Regions from separate parts of the Homo sapiens genome. Here region 2 is linked to region 1. The links come from fine-mapping of genetic effects on gene expression. A gene starts in region 1. The other region holds a variant in brackets. All regions are shown on one strand. Distances are from middle to middle. Region 1 holds the start of SHTN1 (shootin 1). Region 2 overlaps SHTN1 (shootin 1).

Region 1 (11,611 bases):
GCTCTAGATGTGCTCATTGATACTGGTGCATCTAGGCTCTCTCAGCTGACAGAGCAAGAAAATATATGTATATACCAACATATATATATATGTGTAACCATCCATACCTGTATTAAGCTAAACATGAGTTCACACTGATGTCTCCAACATGAATCCAGTGCCAAAAGCATTTTCTTTTTAGAGAGATGGGGTCTCACTACATTGCCCAGGCTGGTATCAAACTCCTGGGCTCAAGGTATCCTCCTACCTTGGCCTCCCAAAGTGCTGGGATTATACGCGTGAGCCAACACAACCAGCCCAGAAGCATTATTTGTAATAGCAAAAACAAGGAAAGAAAGATAGAAATGTCCATCCAGAGGACATTAAATACATTGTGGTACGTCTGTACATTGGAACATTAATCAATTTTTAATGACAACGCTACATGTACTAATATAAAAAATTACATATTACATGATAAATACATATGCACATACAAACACAATTTCTGGAAGGAAAGAAAACAAAAGGTTAACAGTAGTTAACTTTGGGAAATGGGAATGGGGTCATAGCATGCATTGTCAATGTAGTGATTTCATCCTCAAGGAGATAAGAGAAAAGATCTTGGATATTACAATGGCTTATGGCCCTTCAAAGAGTCACAGTGCATAAAACGCCTAAAAAGTTTCCTTAGGAGAGTGATAATGAAATAAAGATTGAGAAACAATGGGTCAGATAGAATAGTTAATTGTACTTTTCACTTTACACACTTGTTTTCTATGAGCATGTGTTTATTTTTGCATTTATTTTAAAAAAGGTTCACAGCTGGGTGCGGTGGCTCACGCCTGTAATCCCAGCACTTTGGGAGGCCTAGGCGGGTGGATCACAAGGTCAGGAGTTCGAGACCAGCCTGACCAACATAGTGAAACCCCATCTCTACTAAAAATACAAAAATTAGCCGGGTGTGGTGGCACATGCCTGTAGTCCCAGCTACTTGGGAGGCTGAGGCGGAAGAATTGCTTGAACCTGGGAGGCGGAGGTTGCAGTGAGCCGAGACCACGCCATTGCACTCCAGCCTGGGTGACAGAGTGAGACTCTGTCTCAAATAAATAAATACATAAATAAATAAATAATATTAAGGAAATAGTGAAATTCTGACTAGAAGACATAGTTCCTTAGCCCACACTGCATGTTCATCTCATGGGGGGTTGCCAAACTGTTGTTCTTCAGCAACCACTCCCTAACTTTCAGAGGAAAATGCATTGTTGATAAGTACCTGGTGATTCAGATGCAGCTGGCCCTTGTACCACACTTTGAAAAATACTGATGTAAAACCAAGTTTGCACTTGAAAACAAGGCAACATTTAATTCCAAACAGCTTTCTACTGGCTGATCTCATATGCACCCAAGATTGTCAATGCTTCCGTTTTCCCAGACTGACGTGGTCATTGTGGTAGGCAATAGTTTCAGACTGTTTTGTCAAAATAATGCTCCAGTTATTTCCTGGCCTAGAAGCCAATGGAATACTGGATGCATCTTTTAATTACTAACTTGCTCTAAGAATAAGCTTGACTAGATTTCCATGTGAACTTAAGTATCATCTCAATAATCTTGGGGAAAACGATACTAACTCTAAAGGTGAAAAGAGGTTTAAAATTGCTTTAAAACCAATTACCTCACCATAGGAAATCCATTTTAAATACTGTTAGCCCAAAAATTGCCCATTATTGGGGTGGTGGTGGTTGTTTTCCTCTTATGTATGTCCTTATTATTAAATAGCCATCTCTCTTCAAAATTTCATCAACTTGGAAATGACATGGCATTACTACACTGAACAGTTTAGCAGACATGTGTTGTCTGTGTCTGCCCGGTCAGCATCCTCATGGTAGTGCACCCCATTCTGTTTTGGACTATTCCTCCAATCTTTGCAGGGGCTGCCAATTAAAGTATCCTGCCCTCCCGTGGCCAAAGTATTTGAATACATGAGATTGGCCAAACTAGGCCAATCAGACACTCCTCCTGGAATTTACATGCCTAGCACTATCTCTAGACCAGGAACTCCTCACCAGCAGAGGCAAGGTCTTATTCAGCTCTATCTCTCTGATGCCTAGCACAGTGCCTGGCTATGAATATTCAATGCATGTGGGCTGAATGAATTATACAGAAAATCATGCACCTTAAACAAATGCTGAACTAAGTCTATCATTTTCCCACTGAATTCCGGAGGGGGAGCAAATTGTATGATGTTTTGTAAGGGAAATATCCACTTTAGTAGCTAGGAAATATGCCTCGGAAATAGTATCCAAAGTTGCCATTTCTCGGTGCATTAAAGATGTCAATCAGTCCAATAAAATAAAGCCCCAAAAAAGACAAAAGGAGAATTACCTCATTACCTCAACATCTGCTTGAACATAAGCAATCACACACTGGCTAATTTTTTTTAAAGGGACATAATATAACTTTCTGGAAAGACATAATATAGCTAATTATACCATTCACTAGGAGGGAACATAAAATGTTTTGAAGTAATTCAGAAGTGGGTGTGATTTATAAGACATAGAGCTTAGGGAATGGTAAGTATAAATTAGAGATTGTTCATATTATGACAGACTCCGTCATTACATTTCACAACTTTTGTCAAAAGCAACCTTATTCACCACACCACTAAAGGCTTCACGTTAGGGAAGGCTGCTGTCAGCTTTGTGGTTTAGAGTAGACAGGAATCTCCTTTCTGAACACTCTCCTGGGGAACTGGTTCAAGTTTTAGACTTAAAACTTACTAAGGCAGGGCAAAATGAAGAGAGATTGTTTAATGGGTTCAAACATAGTTAGATACAAGGAGTAAGTTTTAACATTTTGATAGCAAAGTAGGGTGACTACAGTTAACAACAATGTATTATATATTTCAAAAGAGATAGAAGAGAGGACTTGAAATGTTCTCAACTCATTGAAATGATAAATACTGGAGGTAATGGATATCCCAAATACCCTGACTTGATCATTATGCATTCTAAGCATGTAACAAAATACCCCATGTCTTCTATAAATATGTACAAGTCTCATGTATCAGTTTAAAAAAAAATCACTAAGGAAGGACCCATATGATGAAACCTAAATGGCCAATGGCCATGTAAAAAGATTTCAAACATCACTAATAACCAGAGCAATGCAAATCTTAAAAGGTAACATTCTGCCCATTAGATTGGCAAAAATTCAAAAACTTGTCAGGCCATCAAATGAATAAAGATTGCTATTAGCCAGAGTTGACCAATGTGTGGGGAAATGGGTACTGCTGAAGGATATCTGAACTGGTATAATCATTTTGGAGGGCACTTTTGCAATGTCTAGCAAAAGTAAATGTCCGTGCCCTCTAATCCAACAATTCCATTTCTTCTAAGAATCTATCCTAGAATAAAAAAGTAATTGTACATTTATTCATATGATAACTTGAATAGTACCTGTCTTCTCTTCTAGAAAATTAATTTGGTGACAAGGACTGTGTAGTTCACTATTTACACCCCTAGTGCCTACCACATGGACCTGACATATGGTGGTACTTGATAAGTATTTGTTGAAGGAATGAATAAATATGTTTACTCAGCATTATTAAGGGAAAATAACATATTTGATAAATAGTGGTTCTTCTTGCTCACACTAAATAGGGGTAGTGGAATTATCACTCAGAATATTAACATTGTGAGTAAAAAGGTAGTAACAGGTAGTAAAAATTACTATTTTCAAAAATAAACCATGCAACCATCAGCTTACAAAATTGATCATAGTATGTACTGTTAAATGCTCAAAGACCCAGTTACCTGTTCTTCCAAATCCCTAGCTTCCCAATTAGTTCTACAGGTCAAACAGTAACTGAACACTTTTGAAGTAAATTGTTTCCACAGTCTGTGATCCAATGACAAGCAAACTACCTGGTTTTGAAATGTATAAAAATCACACTGTGGGCTGAAAAAATCCCAACACCTTTGTAACTAGACTCACTATCCCCAAAAGTGTACCTTTTAAGAAACACAACTTTGAATATCTAACTGTTCTATTACCTTTCATATGCACTTAATCAAGGAAATATATCCTCTAAAAATACCAATGCCAAGGATTTGTTTATTTTCCAATACAATGCAATAGGAGAAAGAGCCACAAATATAGAAATCCTTTTTGTCAGGCCTCAAACCCAACATAGGAATGGAGAATGTGTTCCGAAATCAAATATAAGCAATTTGCAGATTATCTACATTGTTAATCGACCCTTGATTATACAAGAAATGAAAGGGAAAATTTTTTTATGTTTATCATTATTCGAAAACTGACCAACCATAAGAAGATCTGATATCCACTGACAGATATTACCTATAATGAAAGCTCCACAAATCTAGAATATGAATCAAGTTTTAATGTTTTGGGTTGGGCGAAGGTGTATTAAATATAAAATACCAGTCAGTAGAATCCAGTCCCTCGCTAAAACACTTGAGAAACTTCAGATAAAGGCATTCTGTCCACCCACTAAATTCACTGATGCTTGTGACTTTATGACCTCAGGCTAATCTAGGATGCCAGGTAAAGGTGCTGGGAAGGCCAAAGAGACTAACATTTATCCAGCACTTTCTAGATGCTGGATATCACAGAAGAATGTGTTATGTCCATTTCAGAGGTTAAATAATTTCCCCAGGGTCACACAGTAAACAGTAATGTTGAAATTTGTTTGCCAGAGTGTGGCTTCAGAGGAATCCGGGAGCACTTCCCAACGGTGTCTGTGGTTTTACGCAACAACAGGTAAGAGTACTGGACAGGACCTCAGAAAGTCCTCCAGTTTCACCCTCGCCTTTAGTCAGGTCGGCCTTGATTGACCAGAAGATCCACGGAAGGAAAGAGACTCCTCCAAGTTCACAGAGCAGGTGAGCTGGGCCAAGAGAAGTGAAAGAGCTGCAACTAAATACCAGGTTTTGCCACAGAGCAGGGATCCTTCCATTACATGGTCTTGTCAGCAAGACATTCAGAAAAGTACATGTTCCTACACATTTTTACTTCCTTTAAATCTGTATGGTTCCTCCCTTTATTTCTTTATTATTTATTATTATTATTTTTTTTTGGAGATGGAGTTTCGTTCTTGTTGCCCAGGCTGGAGTGCAACGGCGCCATCTTGGCTCACCGCAACCTCCGCCTCCTGGCGATTCTCCTGCCTCAGCCTCCCGGGTAGCTGGGATTACAGGCATGCACCACCACGCCCGGCTAATTTTGTATTTTTAGTAGAGATAGGGGTTCTCCATGTTGGTTAGGCTGGTCTCGAACTCCTGACCTTAGGTGATCCACCTGCCTCGGCCTCCCAAATTGCTGAGATTACAGGCGTGAGCCACCGCACCCGGCTGGTTCCTCCCTGTCTTGACCCACATTCGCAGACCACCCTTTGGTCAGGGTAATAATGATAAGTGTTTAAATGTGATAGGTTAGCATTTGGTTGTTGATCTGGTTTGGTTCAGAAGTGTGGTAACTGATGAAAAAAATGATTGACTGAAGCAGGTCTTTATTAAAGGATAATCCCCAGTTACCAAGCAGTACAGAAATGCGTGCGCATGGCCTGGCTCTCCTTCGCCCAGCGTCAACCCTGTTAATTCTGAAAGCTCAACACTGGCAGGATGTTGACCTTGCTGACTAATAAACTGCTAAAATTGAGAAGTGATTAAAAAAAAAATTATGGCCTGAAAATCCCAGCTGGGCAAGGAAAGAGGAACTAGACCGAATCCAAACGAAAAGCTGGGAAGGGTGTGAAACAGCCCTACAGGCCACCCAGCGCCAACAAATGTGTAAGGGTGGGGCCAAGCTAGCTGAGCCGCCCAAAGCAGCCAAAATATCCTGCCCCACCCGCTTCTCCGGCAAGGAAGGTGGCACTGTGCAACCTCGTCCGCACTGAATCCTCGTCCCTTCCCCCAGCCCCCGATCGCCAGCAAACGCAACCAGCGGGCAGCGGGTCTCGAGCTGCGGGGCCTGACTAGCCCCGACACTCCGCGTTATCCTCGGTCCAGAGCTTTCCCAGGCGCGCCGGCCACGGAGGACGCTTCTCTGCGGGTGACGGAGCTACTGCGGTGACCACGGCGGCCGCCACGTCTCCCGCCCGGCTTCCAACTGCCCTGGCCCCAGCGCCCTGGGGCCGTCCCCGCCCACGGGCCGCGGCTGCCCACACCTGGCGCCCGCGTGCTGCCTACCTTGCTCCTTCAGACTGGTAATGAGCTGCAGCTGCTTCTCTTCGTCCGAGCTGTTCATTTTGGCGGGTGGGGCCGGGAATAAAAGGGAAAGAGGGAGCGGCGCGGGGCACACAGGAGGAGGGGGAAGAAAAAGCAAGATGCCGGTGGCTTGCGGCTCCACTACCCGGAAGTTGGATCCGCTCCCGCTCCTCCTCCTCCTGGCGCGGAGCGCGCGAGTGAGATCATCCCCACGCACCTACTCGGCGGCTGCGGCCGCTTCACCTGCAGGCGGGGCGGGGCGGGCCCAGCAGTCCCGTTCAGGGGGTGGAGGAACGAGGGCGGGTCGGCAGCCGCTATGCCAGCCTGTGGCTGCCGGCGCGGCAGGACGCGCTGGTGGGAGGGGGGGCGGCCCTGCGTGGGGTCGCTCCGCACCCTTTTCTCCGCCTCCACCTCCCGGACTCAGGGACGCGAGTTCAGAGAAAACCGGCTGTGGGTTCGCAGCGTGTGTGGGAACTCCACTTTGGACGCTTCCCGGGGGTCGCTCCCAAAGAACCACAGAGGTAGAGCGGGACGCAATGAGCCATGAACGCCTGGGCTTCTTCCCTAGTTTTCCCGCAGTAGACTCTGGGGGCGCGGTTGCAAAACCTAGCTGCCCACAGGGGCGGGCCCAGGGTGGTACATTTTGCACCTTGAAGAGGAGACAAGGATCGAATCAGGCCGCCCAGCTACTTAAATGACCATGCCGTGAGTGAAGGAGGGCCCTGGCTAGCTTTCCCCCATCGCACCAGGTTTGCCAGGTGGTCAGAACGTGGACCCTGCTGCACGTGGATGGTGGGGCCTGGAGGGCCCTTGCAGATCATCTGGTTGGTGGCGGGATGACCTTCCCTTTAGAGAGGGTGCCACTGCAGTCCGAATGCCGAAGGTCACGCAGCCCCCGGGCAGCAGAGGCTGGCAGTTAAGCCAAGCGTTTGTCCCAGTTCACTGCCCTCTGAACTATTTGAACTCATGTCTGTGTTAGACCATGCCCAGGAGAGAAGTGGCAGGTCTGCATTGTTTCAAAGGTGCTTCTCCCCAACCCCTAGTTGCGAGCTAACCTTTGGTCAAGTCTCCTGCATCTTTGAACTTCATCTGAAGAATAGGAAGAATAGTGATACCTACTCTCAAGGAAGAGTTGTAAGGATTTAATAGAGGAAGATTAACAAAACACCAAGTCCAGAATTTATAATGCAGTTTTTTTTTGTTTTTTTTTTGTTTTTTTGTTTTTAATAAAGATTACAGGTCTGTGGCCGGGCACAGTGGCTCACGCCTGTAATCCCAGCACTTTGGGAGGCCAAGGCGGGCAGATCACGAGGTCAGGAGATCGAGACCATCCTGGCTAACACGGTGAAACCCCGTCTCTACTAAAAATACAAAAAATTAGCCGGGCGTGGTGGCAGGCGCCTGTAGTCCCACCTACTCGGGAAGCTGAGGCAGGAGAATGGCGTGAACCCGGGAGGCGGAGCTTGCAGTGAGCCGAGATCGCGCCACTGCACTCCAGCCTGGGTGACAGAGTGAGACTCCGTCTCAAAAAAAAAAAAAAAAAAAAATTACAGGTCTGTGAGAAAGGGGTTGTGGTTGCTGACTATAAGCTGAAGGTTGCAGTTCTTTTACACTGATCATTAAGCATGGGAGATAAGTCCAAACTGAATTAGACTTATTGCACAGCTTGGTTTTTCTCACTACCTCTAAGCTCTTAGTTTGGGTACAGCAACAGCACAGTGCTGCTCATTCCTCAATTGCTGTTTTATGGAAGTGCCCAGCTCCATTTCTTGTGTTCATTTCTCCATGATAGTTGTAGAGTGAGGTTGAGATATGGGTAAATCCTGTAACTAGTGTCTTTCTGATACTCACTACATGCTAACTAAAATTTTGAAAAAAAAAATGGTAGCACTGCTTTCTCTTTCTCTAAAATGGCAATATAGTACTTTAGCATGAGTGATTTAGGGGTAGAATGATCTAAAAGGGCAGCATAGTATTTTTTAATACAGTGTATTAAAATGTTTAAAGTTTAAAAATAATTTTGATATGGGATTGTATTATTCAGCCCTTTCCCTAGGTATGCGTAAGATAATTCAAGATAGTTGCAGATAGCTGCCATGAAGATCCCCAGGAGATAATAATAAAAAAATCCGGGAGATTTTAATGAAAAATAATGGACATTTAGCTTTTGTCCAGCAGTTGGGAAACCTGTTAAACCTGATGAGTCATCCTGACTCATTCTCTCTCACTCTACCAAATACAAGCAGAGTGCCCATTAAATATTTGGCTTAGTTCACAAAGTTCCATTTTTTTTTAATGGCTGATTTGTCTACTCCAATTATACAGTAGTTAGATAGTATTTCTGGAGTTTAAGAATGAGTTAATTATCAAATCTATAATCAAACTTTTGGTTCCATACTAAATCTGCGGCCTCTTGCAATTAATCCCATTTATCCTCCTTAAAATTAGAAAAGGCTCCTGAGCTGAGATTCTGCCACTGCACTGCAGCCTGGGTGACAGAGTGAGACTCCATCTCAAAAAAAAAAAAAAAAAAAAAAAAAACTCCTGAAATACAATATGGCATTCACTTGAGGACATGGTATGAATTATTAGGAGGGCTATTAGAGTCCTTATTGGGATTCAGTTCTCCCATTACACTATTGTTTATTTATATGATATGAATATTGATGGAAAGGATAGAAGTGATAAATTAGTTTTTGTTCCGTTTAATAATATACAGAGTGATGGCTATGGGAGGCCGAGGCGGGCAGATCACGAGGTCAGGAGATTGAGACCATCCTGGCTAACACGGTGAAACCCTGTCTCTACTAAAAATAAAAAAAGCTGGGTGTGGTGGCGGGCACCTGTAGTCCCAGCTACTCGGGAGGCTGAGGCAGGAGAATCACTTGAACCCGAGAGGCGAAGGTTGCAGTGAGCCGAGATCATGCCACTGCACTCCAGCCTGGGTGACAGAGCGAGACTCCATCTCAATAATAATAATATACATAGTGATTTATGTTGCAGGCATCACGTTGGAGTTACTATTGACCTCCAAATAACAGGTCATTTAAAACCCTTAAAAATGTGTGTGTTTACATATATATATACAAATATATACATAGAGATAAAGGACAGACTTTTAAAAAATGAATTGGAAGAATATGTGCCAAACTCAGGATAATGGCTGTCTCTAGGGATAGAAAGTAGGGGAACAGGACCAAGGTGTGGGGGTTGGAGTGTGAAAGTGCAGTGGTCAAGAAGGAGTTTCTCTTTAATCTTTATTTAATTTTTCAGGTAATTAAAGTAAAATCACATATGTCATCTTTTGAGGTATACAGATAAATAAGATTGAAATACAATGAGGAGAAGAAGGTTCACTGTCTTTGATCCACTAATTCTATATCAGGGAATCTATCCTAAAAGGCTTATGTACAGAGCTATTTAATGTAATGTTAATTATCATATGAAAATGGCAATATTGGAATATTATTTGGTAATAAAAATAAAGTACTGATATATGGTACAACACAGATGAAATTTGAAAACATTATACTCAGTGAAAACTTGATCAGAAAAGACCAGATATTGTATGATTGCACTTGTATAAAATGATCACAACAGGCAAATCCATAGAGGGAGAAAGTTGATTGGTGAGTATCTACTGAGGTGGGGTGAAAGTAGGGGAGGTCTGGGAGAAAACAGGGAATGGCTGCTGATAGGTGTGTGGTTAATTGTTGGGGTAATACAAATTTTCTAAAATTAATTGTGGTAATGGTTGTACAATTCTCTGAATATACTCAAAACTATAGAATTGGCCGGGCGCTGTGGCTCACGCCTGTAATCCCAGTACTCTGGGAGGCCAGGGCGGGTGGATCACCGGAGGTCAGGAGTTTGAGACCAGCCTGACCAATATGAAGAAACCCAATCTCTATTAAAAATATAAAAAATAAGCTGGGCGTGGTGGCACATGCCTGTAATCCCAGCTACTCAGGAGGCTGAGGCAGGAGAATCACTTGAACTCAGGAGGAGGAGGTTGCAATGAGCCGAGATCGTGCCATTGCACTCCAGCCTGGGCAACAAGAGCAAAATTCTGTCTCAAAAAAAAGAAAAGAAAAGAAAATATCAACCAAATATGCACAAAAGGAAAGGAGAAAGAAGTCAAAATGATTACCAAAAACATACACATTTTTTTAAAAACTAAGTATAAAATAAGGCAATAATGAAGCAAATGAAGAGCAAAAGAGCTATAAGACATATAGATAATACATAGCAAAATTGCAGAAATAAGTCATTTCTTATTAACTGTAACTTTAAATGAAGATGGCTTAAACTCTCCAAAAGGCAAACACTGGCAGGATGCAAAAAAAAGTATGATCTAACTATATGATGTCTACAAAATATTTATTTTAGATCCAAAGACAACAATAGATTTAAAGCAAAATGGTAGGAAAAAATTTAATTAGTAACCAAAAGAGAGTTGGGGTGGTTATATTAATATCAGACAAAACAGACTTTAAGTCAAAAACTGTTACAATAAACAAAAGTCTATATTCACAAAAGGGTTGATTCGGTAAGAATATATAATTACTATAAACATATATACAAGCTGGGCACGGTGGCTCAAGCCCGTAATCCCAGCACTTTGGGAGGCCGAGACGGGCAGATCACGAGGTCAGGAGATTGAGACCATCCTGGCTAACACTGTGAAACCCCGTCTCTACTAAAAATACAAAAAATTAGCCGGGCGTGGTGGCGGGCGCCTGTAGTCCCAGCTACTGGGAGGCTGAGGCAGGAGAATGGCATGAACCCGGAAGGCGGAGCTTGCAATGAGCCGAGATCGCGCCACTGCACTCCAGCCTGGGCGACAGAGTGAGACTGTCTCAAAAAAAAGGAAAAGAAAAAAAAAACTTATGGAATACCGTGAAGACAGTGCTCAGAGAGAAATTTATAGTTCTAATTACTACATTATAAAAGAAAGATACAAAATCAATAAGGTAACTGTACACCTTGAGAAAATAGACAAGCAAAATAAACCTAAAGTTAGCAGAAGGAATAAAATAATGAAGATTAGAGTGGAGATAAAATAAAAGACAATAGAAAAATAATAGAATTAATAAAAAGCTATTTCTTTGAAAGTATCAAAATTGACAATCCTTTCCCTAAATTAACGAAGAAAAAAAAGAAATATGAAAATCAGATATTAAAATGGGGACAGTAATACCAATGATTCAGAAATAAAAAGGATTCTAAGAGAATAATAAGAACAATTATATGTCAACAAATTAAATAACCTAGAAGAAATGGACAAATTCCCAGAAACACACAAGTCACCTAAACTAACTGAAAAAGAAAATTTCAGCAGAACTATTATAAGTAGAGTAATTCAGAAAGTATTAAAAAAAGAAAAGAAAAGAAAAGAAAGA
Region 2 (11,611 bases), 48 kb before region 1:
CCTCCCAAAGTGCTAGGATTACAGGCGTGAGCCACTGAACTCAGCCCCATTATTTTGTTCATTATGCCTTCTCAGATGTCTGAAATAGCCATAATAAAAATAATTGTTGAATTGTCTTCCAATAATACCTCTAAGTGGGAAGCGAGAGAATCATCAGTAAATAATCACAACTGAGGAACAGAGCACACTAAGAAACAAAGATAATGGTCCTGAAAGTGGCTCTGAATCCATCAGCACCTCCAGATAATCTATTAACTGGTTCTTTTAGTGTAGGCTTTATTTTTGGTTTTGGTTTAAATTAGTAACTGGTACACATTGTCCAACGGTAAGGTCCTTTCCAAAATATCATCTTCCTTCTTCCCATTCGTTACAATGTTTTGCCACAATAATAAAAGGAGCTCAGGCTGGGAAGTTGGCAGACACTGCTTTCCAACCTTTTTTACATCATGGCCTCCAAGAAAATGACAATATGTGTGTGCAAACTGAGGTAACTGGATGAGGCTGCTCACTGACAGGATCAATACGTTGGCATGCTCATAAGTCACTTTATCAAGCTGCAGTTGGCACATCAGTTGGGAAGTGCTGGGCTACAGAATCTAAGAACCACTGATACAAATTAAATCCAGAATCAAGACTGTGAAGGCAAATCCTTGAAGCCTCGTGCAAATAAAAGGCAATTGTGAGGGTCTTGTTCTGAAAGACAGTTCAAAAGGAAAAAGAGGCCAGGGCAGCGGCTTGCATTGGTGGTCCCAGCACTTTGGGAGGCCAAGGTGGGAAGATCATTCAAGTCCAGGAGTTCAAGGTAAGCCTGGGAAATACAGGAACCCACATCTCTATAAAAATTTTTAAAAATCAGGCAGGCGTGGTGACGCATGCCTGTACTCTCAGCTATTTGGGAGGCTGAGGCAGGAGGATCATTTGAGCCTGGGAGGTTGAGGCGGCAGTGAGCTGTGATCATGCCACTGCACTCCAGCCTGAGTGTGACAGAGTTAGGTCTTGTCTCAAACAAAACAAAACACCAGAAAAGAAAGATTCTGTAAACAACCACTTGAACCCATCCTACCACCTATCATAAATGCCTGTGTTGGAGATGCACAGAGGGACAGTCCTTCCCAATTGAACCAGTCATTCACCGGAAAAGCAAAACATGCTCTTCTTTCTCTACCAGCAGCAATAAAATATATGACTTGAAATAGTAGCTACTATTCTTACAAATTTGCCTTACATAGCAAAAACTGGGGGAACAACAGGAAACATGTCCATGCTATTTCAGAATTTTATTTATTAAGCTAGCTAGTGGGTACATGAATCTTCATCATCTTATTTCCTCTACCTTTTTTTATGTCTGAAATTGAGGAGAGAAGATTAAAATTGGTACATGGTTCTCATGTTAGAAATTGGCTTATAATATTAAGTTCTTAACTTAGCAAATCCCCAAACACCTTGAAAATGCTAAAGCCCTTGCCTTTCAGGCCTGAGATACATACTTCTTCAATTACTTCTACGAGTTTGCTCTTGAGATTTTCCAGCTCAATGGCTAAAATCTTCTTTTCCTCCTGAACAGATACAATTTGATCTCGAAGTTCTGCATTTTTAAAGAAAAAAAATATATAAATAAACTTATTTTTAAAATAAGAAATCAATCTGGTCAAAAGAATTGAAAATGCCAGTCCATGTGCAGCTTATGGTCAAGATTATTTAACAATTAAAAAGAAATGAAGAACCAAAGGACAATGAGAATCTCATTTGCGTGGCCCTCCCCAAAATAGCCATGGATATTAACAATTTTATATCAGGCAACCTCACTACATTAAATGTACCAGATCATGTTTTCTTTGCATTCTATCAAAACCACATTCTAGAAAACTATCTAGCATTTTGGAAGTAAAATTTTTTAAGTTTTCAGCAAAACAAATTAAGGTGTAGTACTAATTTCTTTTTTATTTCATAATGCCATGGGCTGTTATCACAATAAAATATAAACAATTGGGATGTTAATAATTTGGATATTTTGATTAGAAGTAAAAGATCCTGACTTGCTGCCAATTTATAGTCCTTAGACATTATTTGAACTGATTCAAAATATAACTATTTGAAAGAAGGGTTAATTCTAGTAATTTTCTCTCTAGAGTCATGGGTGTTTTGTTTTTAAATTTATTTCATAGTTTTATTATTAGGATTCAATGAAAAGTGTGTCACTAGAATGAGAGTATTATCAACTGTAAGCGCAAAAGCTTCTGGTGTTAAAGTTACTTCTGTCACTCAAATGTTTGAAAATACACATAGATTAGCACAGACTACTCAAATTCATATTCTGGCCTACTGTTTTGTCACTTAGGTTTTAACTGCCTTTAATTTCTTACTGTTTTCCAAGTGCAATAAAGAATATGTTATGTGGTTATTTGTAAATTAAATCAAACTTTTTACATAAACTCAGCTTGGAGAAGTTCTCAGAGACTTATTTCTGAATCACTTTCTCCATTTGCTGGCTAATCCAGAAAGAAGAACATGAAACCATATTGTTCAAGCTCGAACAGAAAGGAGAATAATGAGCAAAGGGAACTCCTTTAAACTTCCTCTCCCTCCCTACCAACATGAATTCTATTTTGTGTTAGCTTGAGGGGTTGAAGAGTAGGTAAAGATGGTGTCTGTAACATCCTTTCTTCTTTATACTTCCAGTTGAAATTTTATCTACCAAACAAATAAATGAATATTGCTTTTGACCTGTGTACTAAATTAAAATGTTCCAATAGTTACTGAGCCAGAACTGCTTTCCTACATCTTTAAATAAACATGTGTATGAGTAAAATGAATGTGCATTCAGTAGATGTATCATATGATCTTGCCTTACAACACTACTTGTTAACCAACAAAAAGGGGTGTCGCTAAATATATTTTTATTCATTGTTTCTTTCATTTAACAAAAATATCTTGACATATAGTACATATCCTTAAGGTTATAGTATAACTGGCTGCTTCCATTGAGACACTTTCAAAAGTGCTTAATTCCAAACAAGAAAGTAACTCATAAAGCACAATTGTTATATACCCTATGGTGATTTGGAGATATAAATAAATGATGTGGGAAGCTTTCAAAATACTGATGCCTAGGTCCTACCCCATCCAAAATTCTGATTTAATTGGCCTATGGTGTAGCAAAATTTTGGATAGGGTAGGACCCAGGCATCAGTTTTGTGTTTTGTTTTTTTTTTTTTTTTTTTTTTGAGACAGAGTCTCGCTCTGTCGCTCAGGCTGGAGTGCAACGGCGCAATCTCGGCTCACTGCAACCTCTGCCTCCTGGGTTCAAGTGATTCTCCCGCCTCAGCCTCCCAAGTAGCTGGGATTACAGGCACCTGCCACCACGCCCAGCTAATTTTTGTATTTTTTAGTAGAGACCGGGTTTCACCAGGTTGGCCAAGTTGGTCTCCAACTCCTGACCTCAGGTGATCCACCCGCCTTGGCCTCCCAAAGTGCTAGGATTACAGGCGTGAGCCACCACGCCCTGCCTAGGCATCAGTATTTTGAAAGCTTCCCACATGATTCTGATGTGCAGTCAGGGTTCAGAAGCACTATCATAACGGGGTAAAAAATATGCTCAATAATTAAGCAAAGAGTTCTACCTTTAATTTGCTTCTGACACTGTACTGAGACACAAGTCTCGGCGGCACCGTCTGTGTCTGTAGTCGAATCTTCATCATCAATGTTTATCTCTTCAGTTATTACATCTGGTCCCAGCTTGGCCATGTACAACATGCTGATTCTTTTCAACGTTTTATTTTCTTTATTTAGCTAAGACAAAATATAAAAACAGTTATTTTAAAAGCAGCCAAATGAGTATCTTGGATTTTTAAACAATAGACAAATTAAGTATATTTTTGTCTTACATATTCATCAACACTCACAGCAGGACATAACAATTAGTGGATTCATTAAATAAGGTTTTATATTAAATTTATTTCTTTAACCAAGATCTGATGTCTGGATTACAGCCAGCAGCAAGTGGAAATGCTAGTTGTAACTGATGAGAAATATAAGGAACTAAGATAAAACACCAGTACAGATTAAATAAAATTCTGATTTATAGTCATTAATAGTCTTAAAAAAGGCACTTTATTTCAAGCAAATCTTCTGCGTGCTGTGGTGCTGAGAACACCTTTTAAATGTCTGTTTGCCTAACATCTCTCTTTTCTGGACATTACCACTTTCCATTGTTCCACATGATTTCAATGGGAGTGCCATGCTCTCCCAAGCACACCCCATCCCTTTGGCCACAGCGAATTAGTCCAGGGATTAAACACATGACCCAAGTGTGACCAGTCAGATCCCCTCGCTAGAAATTTGGAGGCTGGAACAGAGCAATGAGTTTCTTTCCATGTGCCTGGACAGGAGCTGCTGGTAACCACATTCCACTATAGGATCAAGGAAAAGAGGAAGGTAGTTTTTAGAAAAGCTAAAACTGAAGCTGATGTGTAGAGAAAGGAAGAGAAAAGCAACAGAGAAAGGGTTTCCCACCAGACTCAAGCCCCAGACTCCAGTCCATTCCTAAACTGCTCCTGTCTCAGAGATTCTATGGAAGTCTCTGATATTTCTAACAGATCCCACATCATTTTCTTTTCTTGTTTAAACTAGTTCAAGATGTTGTTTCTACTATCTCTATTAAAAGAGTTCTACTTCACAGCAAAAAAAAAAAAAAAAAAAAGGAATCCTACTTTGTTAATGTATTTTTTATTCCCGGACAGGGAAATGAGTTGGTTTTTTAACTTCAGTTATTCAACTATTATCACCTTCTTTAGCTAATGTGTTTATGTACAAGAAAATTTAGGACAAAGCACACACAAAGACTAAGGATGTTCCAATGTCCACAGAAGTACAATATGGTTTTGCTCATATTTTCTCTTCCCAAGACTAAAAAATAAACAGTTTTCCTTAATTTGCGCACATCAAAGTAATCAGTAGATTATTTTCCCTACTATAAAATGTAAGTTATAGAAATGCAAATACATTTCCTTTACTAGAGCCCTTGACCAGGAAGACATGCTCTGAATTTAATAATTGATATTGGAAACAAATGAACATAGTTCATTGGAAAGATAACTACCTTTCCTCACTGTAAACCTGACACTAGAATAAGATATTTAGCATAGCACTGGTCTGACTTTGCTCTTTCATTTGTGATCATAATTAGGGTTCCTCAGGGTTTCTCATAGAGAAAGCCCAGCCCACTTTAATCTGGGAGATCTGATTTCTACCCCAATAATATGGAACCTAAAGTGGCATGGTCTGGAGCACGAGAGGTTTGTCTGACCTCTTTGGAGAATCAGGAAGAATCTCTAAGAAATGGTTATGAACTCTTCCATGGATTCTTCCTGGAAGACTGGCAAGCTCTATTCAGGAAATCAGACACAACCCTTTATCCTCAGTCCCAGTCTCCAA[C/T]TCTAGCTTCTGTCTGCACACATTACATTAGGAGATCAAGATAAAAGATGAGGCCCATCATTTCCCAACACCTCTTCCTTAAGTTGGAAAATTCAGATAAAAACTGTTGTGGGTTCTTTAAACCATGAATGCTACAGCATGGCACACGAAGCTCAAGGACCCTCACTTGTCAATTCTCAAACTATCCCATCTTTTAGGAATGTCAGAAGAAAACATCAATTTAAGGAAAAAGTGAAGACATTTAAGACTTAATTTCTGGTTCTGTATCCTAATATTTAAACTAATGGTTCTCAACTCTGGCCATCAGAATCTCTGGAGAGCTTTTTAAAAACCTCAATGCTTAGGCGCTATGCCATACCCAAATCTCTGGCAGTGAAGCCCAGCATAGCCCTTTTTCAGTTTCCCAGGTGATTCTAATGTACATCAACACTAAGAATCATTGATGTAAAGAAACGCATTGCTTTAGTATACAACCCAGCTCTGCAATAAAATTCCATCTCTGCCTCTACAACTAACCTAATCCTTATGTTTCAGTTTTCTCATCAGTAAACTAAGAATTAAGATAGTCTGTATCCCACAATATGATGACTAAATGAGACATTATATATAAAGTATTTAATATAGTAACTGCCACACAGTAAAACTTCAGTGTTAGTTATTCATAGTAAGAAGAGGTTTAGTTTGTGTCTAATTATCCTTTGGAAATCATTTATCAGCTAGTTTTCTTCAAAGTATTCATTTAGGCATTTTCTCCTTCCTCCAGGATACTCAAGAAACTACTAGTTTCTGTCATCTAGTGCTTAATATATTACTTCTTAGACAACCACTACAATAATACCTTAGCAACATCATAGCTAACAGTTCTGCCCTCAAAAGGGTTTAATGCCCCTATCAAACCAGGCACCAAAATCCACCAGTTTGTCTGCAATACAATTACTCTACTTAACAAAGTCACCAGCTCAAGAAAAAAAAGCCAATCAGAAAATTTCATAATCCTTCTCTGAAACCCCATTTTCGCATTTTGAAAGAAGAAATGTAAGATTTATATATATGAGGGTTTTTTTTGTTTTGTTTTTTTGGAGATGGGTTCTTGCTCTGTCACCCAGGTTAGAGTGCAGTGGTATGATCATAGCTCACCACAGCCTCAAAGTCTCAAACTCCTGAGCTCAAGTGACCCTCCCACCTTGTCCTTCCAAAGCACTGGGATTACAGGAGTGAGCCACCACACCCGGCCTAGACATGAGGTCTTATGTGCATACTATTTGAACATTTTTGAGAATTCTGAATTCACAAATTTTGGCTAAGTAATTTCATTGTAGCTATTCATCAAGCTATAGGTTAATTGCATGCTACTTGTTGTTTGGAACCCCTCTATGTCTAAGGCAAAAATATATCTTTTTACTTTTTTTTTTTTTTTTTTGAGATGGAGTCTCTCTGTCACCAGGTTGGAGTAGAGCTGCGTGATTTCAGCTCACTGCAACCTCTGACTCCCTGGTTCAAGCGATTCTCCTGCCTCAGCCTCCCGAGTAACTGCGATTACAGGCACACACCACCACGCCCAGCTAAGCTTTGCATTTTTAGTAGAGACGGGGTTTCACCATGTTTGCCAGGATGGTCTCAATCTCCTGACCTCAGGTGATCTGCCCACCTCAGCCTCCCAAAGTGCTGGGATTACAGGCGTGAGCCACCGTGCCCAGCCAAAAATATATCTTTTATAACCCTACAGTAACAGAACCTACTATTATATTCAAATGTAAATAGGGTTTTTATATTGTCCAGTTTAGTGGCTATTTAAAGGTACAAAACAAGCAAGTTTAATGGCTTTGGATCATATGACTTAAATAACTGGTCCACATTTATCAGTTTAATCTACACATTTTAGCAAAGCAAAGTATCCATACTTGCTTCTAAGAAAATATGAGGAACTGGGCGCAGTGGCTCACGCCTGTAATCCCAGCACTTTGGGAGGCTAAGGCGGGCAGGTCACCTGAGGTCAGGAGTTTGAGACCAGCCTGGTCAACACAGTGAAACACTGTCTCTACTAAAAACACAGAAATTAACTGGGTGTGGTGGCACATGCCTGTAATCCCAGCTACTCGGGAGACTGAGGCAGGAGAATTGCTTGAATCTGGGAGGTGGAGGTTGCAGTGAGCCAAGATGGCATCACGGCACTCCAGCCTGGACAACAGAGCAGGACTCCATTTCAAAAAGAAAAAAAAGAAAATTACGAGGTCAAGCTGCATCATCAGAATTAAACATTCCATTTGTCATTAATTTGATGGCAAAAATTTAGAAAAATAAGAATTTATAGAAACTTTGCTCTCAGGAAAAAAAATGAGCATTTTTGAAAGCCTCCTTTCAAAAATGACAATTGATACTTAAATCAGAATGAAGTCACACATATAATGAAGTTTCCACATTTTGCATTCAAAGCAGTCTTTCACAACAAACAAGCACATTTATAGTATTTGATTTAATCCATTTTTTAAATTTTTTTCTAGGCCCCATGAGTTCATACTATATCTTCAAAAATAAACTATATGTTCATTTTAAAAAAGGGTTTTTAAAGAACAGGCAACAAACAGTGTTAGGTAAGGATCCTATTATTAAGACTTAATTGTAAAAATGAGCTTAGAGATTAGGTAACACTGGTTCGTAACGAGCAATGAATATAACAGTCACCAGGCAGCTTTTCTACATGCACATGCCTGGGCCACACATCTAGAGCCAATGGATCTGGGGTATTATGATGAAGCCAACCATGGTCCATCCTGGCATTTAGAGCAAGACAACTGTAGCTCAGAGAGGTGAGTTCTCTTGCCCAAAAACACCTATTAAATAAAAGGGGAGACAGAATAAAGTAATTTTTTAAAAGGGGCCATATGCAAATAAATTATTAACTCCAGTCCTAACTCTAGTCCATCATGTCATTTAAGATGAGATACTACACTCCAGAGAACAAAATTAACTTGTCCAAAATCACATATGCCCAAAATTACATAACCAGGAACAAAACCTGTATATACTGTCCCACAAACCAGTGCCTTCCATAAACTCTGCCAATCCTGAAAGGTAGCCAGTATCCTCACTCTGGATGTGCTATGACAACAGGAATACTTGTTAATAACAAGAAAAAATAGAGAGTATATCCTTAGACACTAGAAGATTCAGAGCAGCTAGCAGGCTCCAAATGTACTTTTTCTCTACTTATTCCAAAGAAAGAAATTCAAAAATGAAAATAGAATTCACACAACATTACGGACTAGTGAACTCTAGGAATGTGCCGCAGAGTAAAAATGATGTGAGAATACCCATGTTATCATTTTTTAAAAAGTGTTTTTAAAGTGTATTGCTGTGTATTCTTCAGATGAATAACAGGAGAGAAGTTACATACCCAAATTTATATTCTTAGTTAGGTCCTGATTAAATATCTTATGAATTCTAATGTAGTGTTGTTATGCAAACAATTAAGCAAATACCTCTAGGAAGCACACTGTTAATGCATACAAATTACATTTATTTATGTATTTATTGAGAGTAGGATTTCAGTCACATCCAAAGAAATTTTCGGAGGTGGGTGATGGAGGGGAGGGAAAAGAAACACAACCAGTATTACTAATGAAATTTGGTTGAAAATTGCTGTAATCCACTTTCTGATGAAGTGGTTCAGATGCATTTTACCCAACCCAAAATACATAAGACAGAGATAAAAAAAACATTCTTTAATAATAATGTACTTCTGATGAGATAGAATGTAGAAAATTACACACTTGGTAAATTCATCAGCAAGAGGCAATCAGTGGAACACTGGAGGTCACCTTCAGCATGCCCTCGCTTTGCTTTCATAAATAATCACCTGAAATGCACGGCTTCAGGGTGACTTTTTCATCTGATTCAAATATGAGACATTCACTGCTCTTTTATGTCACACCAGGTTAGTTTTAAACTTGGTTAGCATTTTAACCAAATGCATGGACATTTGCAAAGTCCCCTTTAACACTACTCTGGGACCATTTTTTCCACATTTTCACAGGCAAAAAGCACAAATGCTGAAATACTCACATACAAATGCTCCTTTTACAATTTGGAATAACCTTTGCATTAAGGTGAATATTTACATAATCATATTCCAGGATTCTGAGGCCTTTTAACATTTCCCTCATCATCAGAGTAGATAATCGATTAGAGAAGTAGAAAAGCAAAACCAGATAGAAGCCACTGCTTAGAAAAGCAAGTTGAAATTTAAAAGCTCAGGTAAAATTCCTTCATTTGAAGTCTCACCTTTGTTGCCAAAGCTTCAGCACTTTCTCGACAAGTCTTCTCTATTTCAAGATGGTTCTGCATGAAATTAACTTCCTCTATGACCATGTGAGAAACTAGGAATGAGGGGGAAAAAAAATCTCAGCATTCAAAGATTAGTCAGCTATTCCAGGAGCCCACGCATCGTCCCATGATTAAGAATACTTCAATTCTTTGGCTAGCCAGACCTTTAGCTATCACTGAAAAAAGGTTTTTGAGAAGCTGCCCTGATTAAATCTGAGCTAATATTTGAATGTAGAAAGAAACAAGAACACAACAAAATACATTCATTTCACATACATACATTTTATTATGTACATTTTAAGAGCGCTATTTAGATTTTTTTACAAGTCTATTTTCTATGCAACTATATATGTATCCATAGACATATGTGCTAGTTTAAACAAAAGAATATTTCATAAATAAAGAGGAGTGACAGCATGACTTCTTTTTCTCAGCAGTGTATAACACATGGCTCTAATAAGAAAAATTAACAAAAAATAAAAGAAAAATAAATCTTAAATTGATCTTATGACTGGAGTAGTGATGTGGCGACTTGGCTAAGTACTGCAACATTTGTCTCTATTAGCTACAAAGTAGTTACTGCTATTTCATAAGTAACTCTCAGGCAGAAAAGTATAGCAGTAAGATTTATGTACTATATGGTTATAAAGCAGATGCTAATAAATTACTTCCTGAATCATAGGCTATCAGAAGCATTAGAAGAAAAATAAAATTTTACTTGATATGTCACCAATGCTCGAAAAATTGTATTTTTTAGATTTTTTGACAGCTGGTGCATGTAAATTGAGATTTACAGGTATAAAGTGATTTAGAACTTGAGTTATATTTTGAAGATCAAGAAAGAAAAATGCCAATTCCTTCCACCCATATTTCTAGTTAAATGAAAACTCTCAGAATCTCAACCCTAAATGTAGACATTACTTATTGCTATTTGTTTGGCTTAAAAAAAAAAAAATTAAAGGACACCCAAATGTGAAACCCAACAAAGTTAGGCAAAAAGCACTGGGCTCACATAACACAAAGAGAGATTACTTTTGCTTCATTTAAGCTTAATTAACCTGCAATTATGATTAAACTCAGGGGAAAAAATTTCTCTCCAAATTAAATACAAAAATGTATTACTTCCTAAGTCTGTCCAAAGTTCTTATTATGTTAATATTCAAATTCATAAAGCAGCACTAAATGGCCAGAAACATCTCTAACCTTGACATTTTTTCAGGGGTAATAATAATCTGCAGCAAATGCAGGCCAACCAAAAACCACTTAACTAATTAGTAGTTGCAGTCACCGAGAAAAACATGAATCAACACTGTTATTACAAGTGGCACATTTGAGTGGCATCTAATTATGACTTGATGAGCACGATACTTGCATTATCAACATTACTACTGCATCCCATCAGGGCCTAAAAGCTGCTGATGGCATTGACTTCGAGAAACTCCCACTCAATGGTACAGCAGCACCCAACAATCGGCTTGGCAGGGGCCCCCCTCACTAAATGACACGTTAAGCGTAATTACTGGTAGACATTGTAAATAAACAGGATTGGAAGTGAAAATTGTACCAAGTGCATAAGACACAATCTGACACATTGGAAGTGGCAGCCTTAATTGAGAGTTTCTTTGACTGCTCAAGATCATTTCAACTGCATTTCTCAGAGGACAGTGATTATAACTGTGGAGACAGACGGCATAATGGTATCAGCACTGCTGACAGAGCAGTGAATTAAATTGTATCTGCTGTTGTGTGAAAGCCTTGATGAGAGGTACAGATGCCTTAGTGGTCTTATCATTATAACACAATGGTCATGTTGTCATCAACCTTTCTGGCTCCAATTGAAAAGAAATGATTGTGT

The links. PIP is the estimated chance that this variant, and not a neighbour inherited with it, causes the effect.
Region 2: its variant is fine-mapped to the expression of SHTN1 in whole blood (INTERVAL, PIP above 0.99).

Annotation. Positions count from the first base shown.
Region 1 is chr10:116,998,831-117,010,441 of GRCh38, forward strand. It overlaps SHTN1 (shootin 1), which reads right to left and starts at 6,357. Exons shown (of 17, transcript NM_001127211.3): 1 at 6,192-6,357. The coding sequence starts at 6,249. RefSeq lists an enhancer at 5,440-6,133 and silencers at 5,948-6,242, 6,114-6,223, 6,454-6,533.
Region 2 is chr10:116,950,422-116,962,032 of GRCh38, forward strand. SHTN1 (shootin 1) reads right to left here. Exons shown (of 17, transcript NM_001127211.3): 4 at 9,715-9,809; 5 at 3,621-3,789; 6 at 1,488-1,585. Among named protein-coding and RNA genes, the nearest start is that of SHTN1, 49 kb to the right of the region's middle. The variant C/T (reference allele first, on the strand shown) is at 5,434.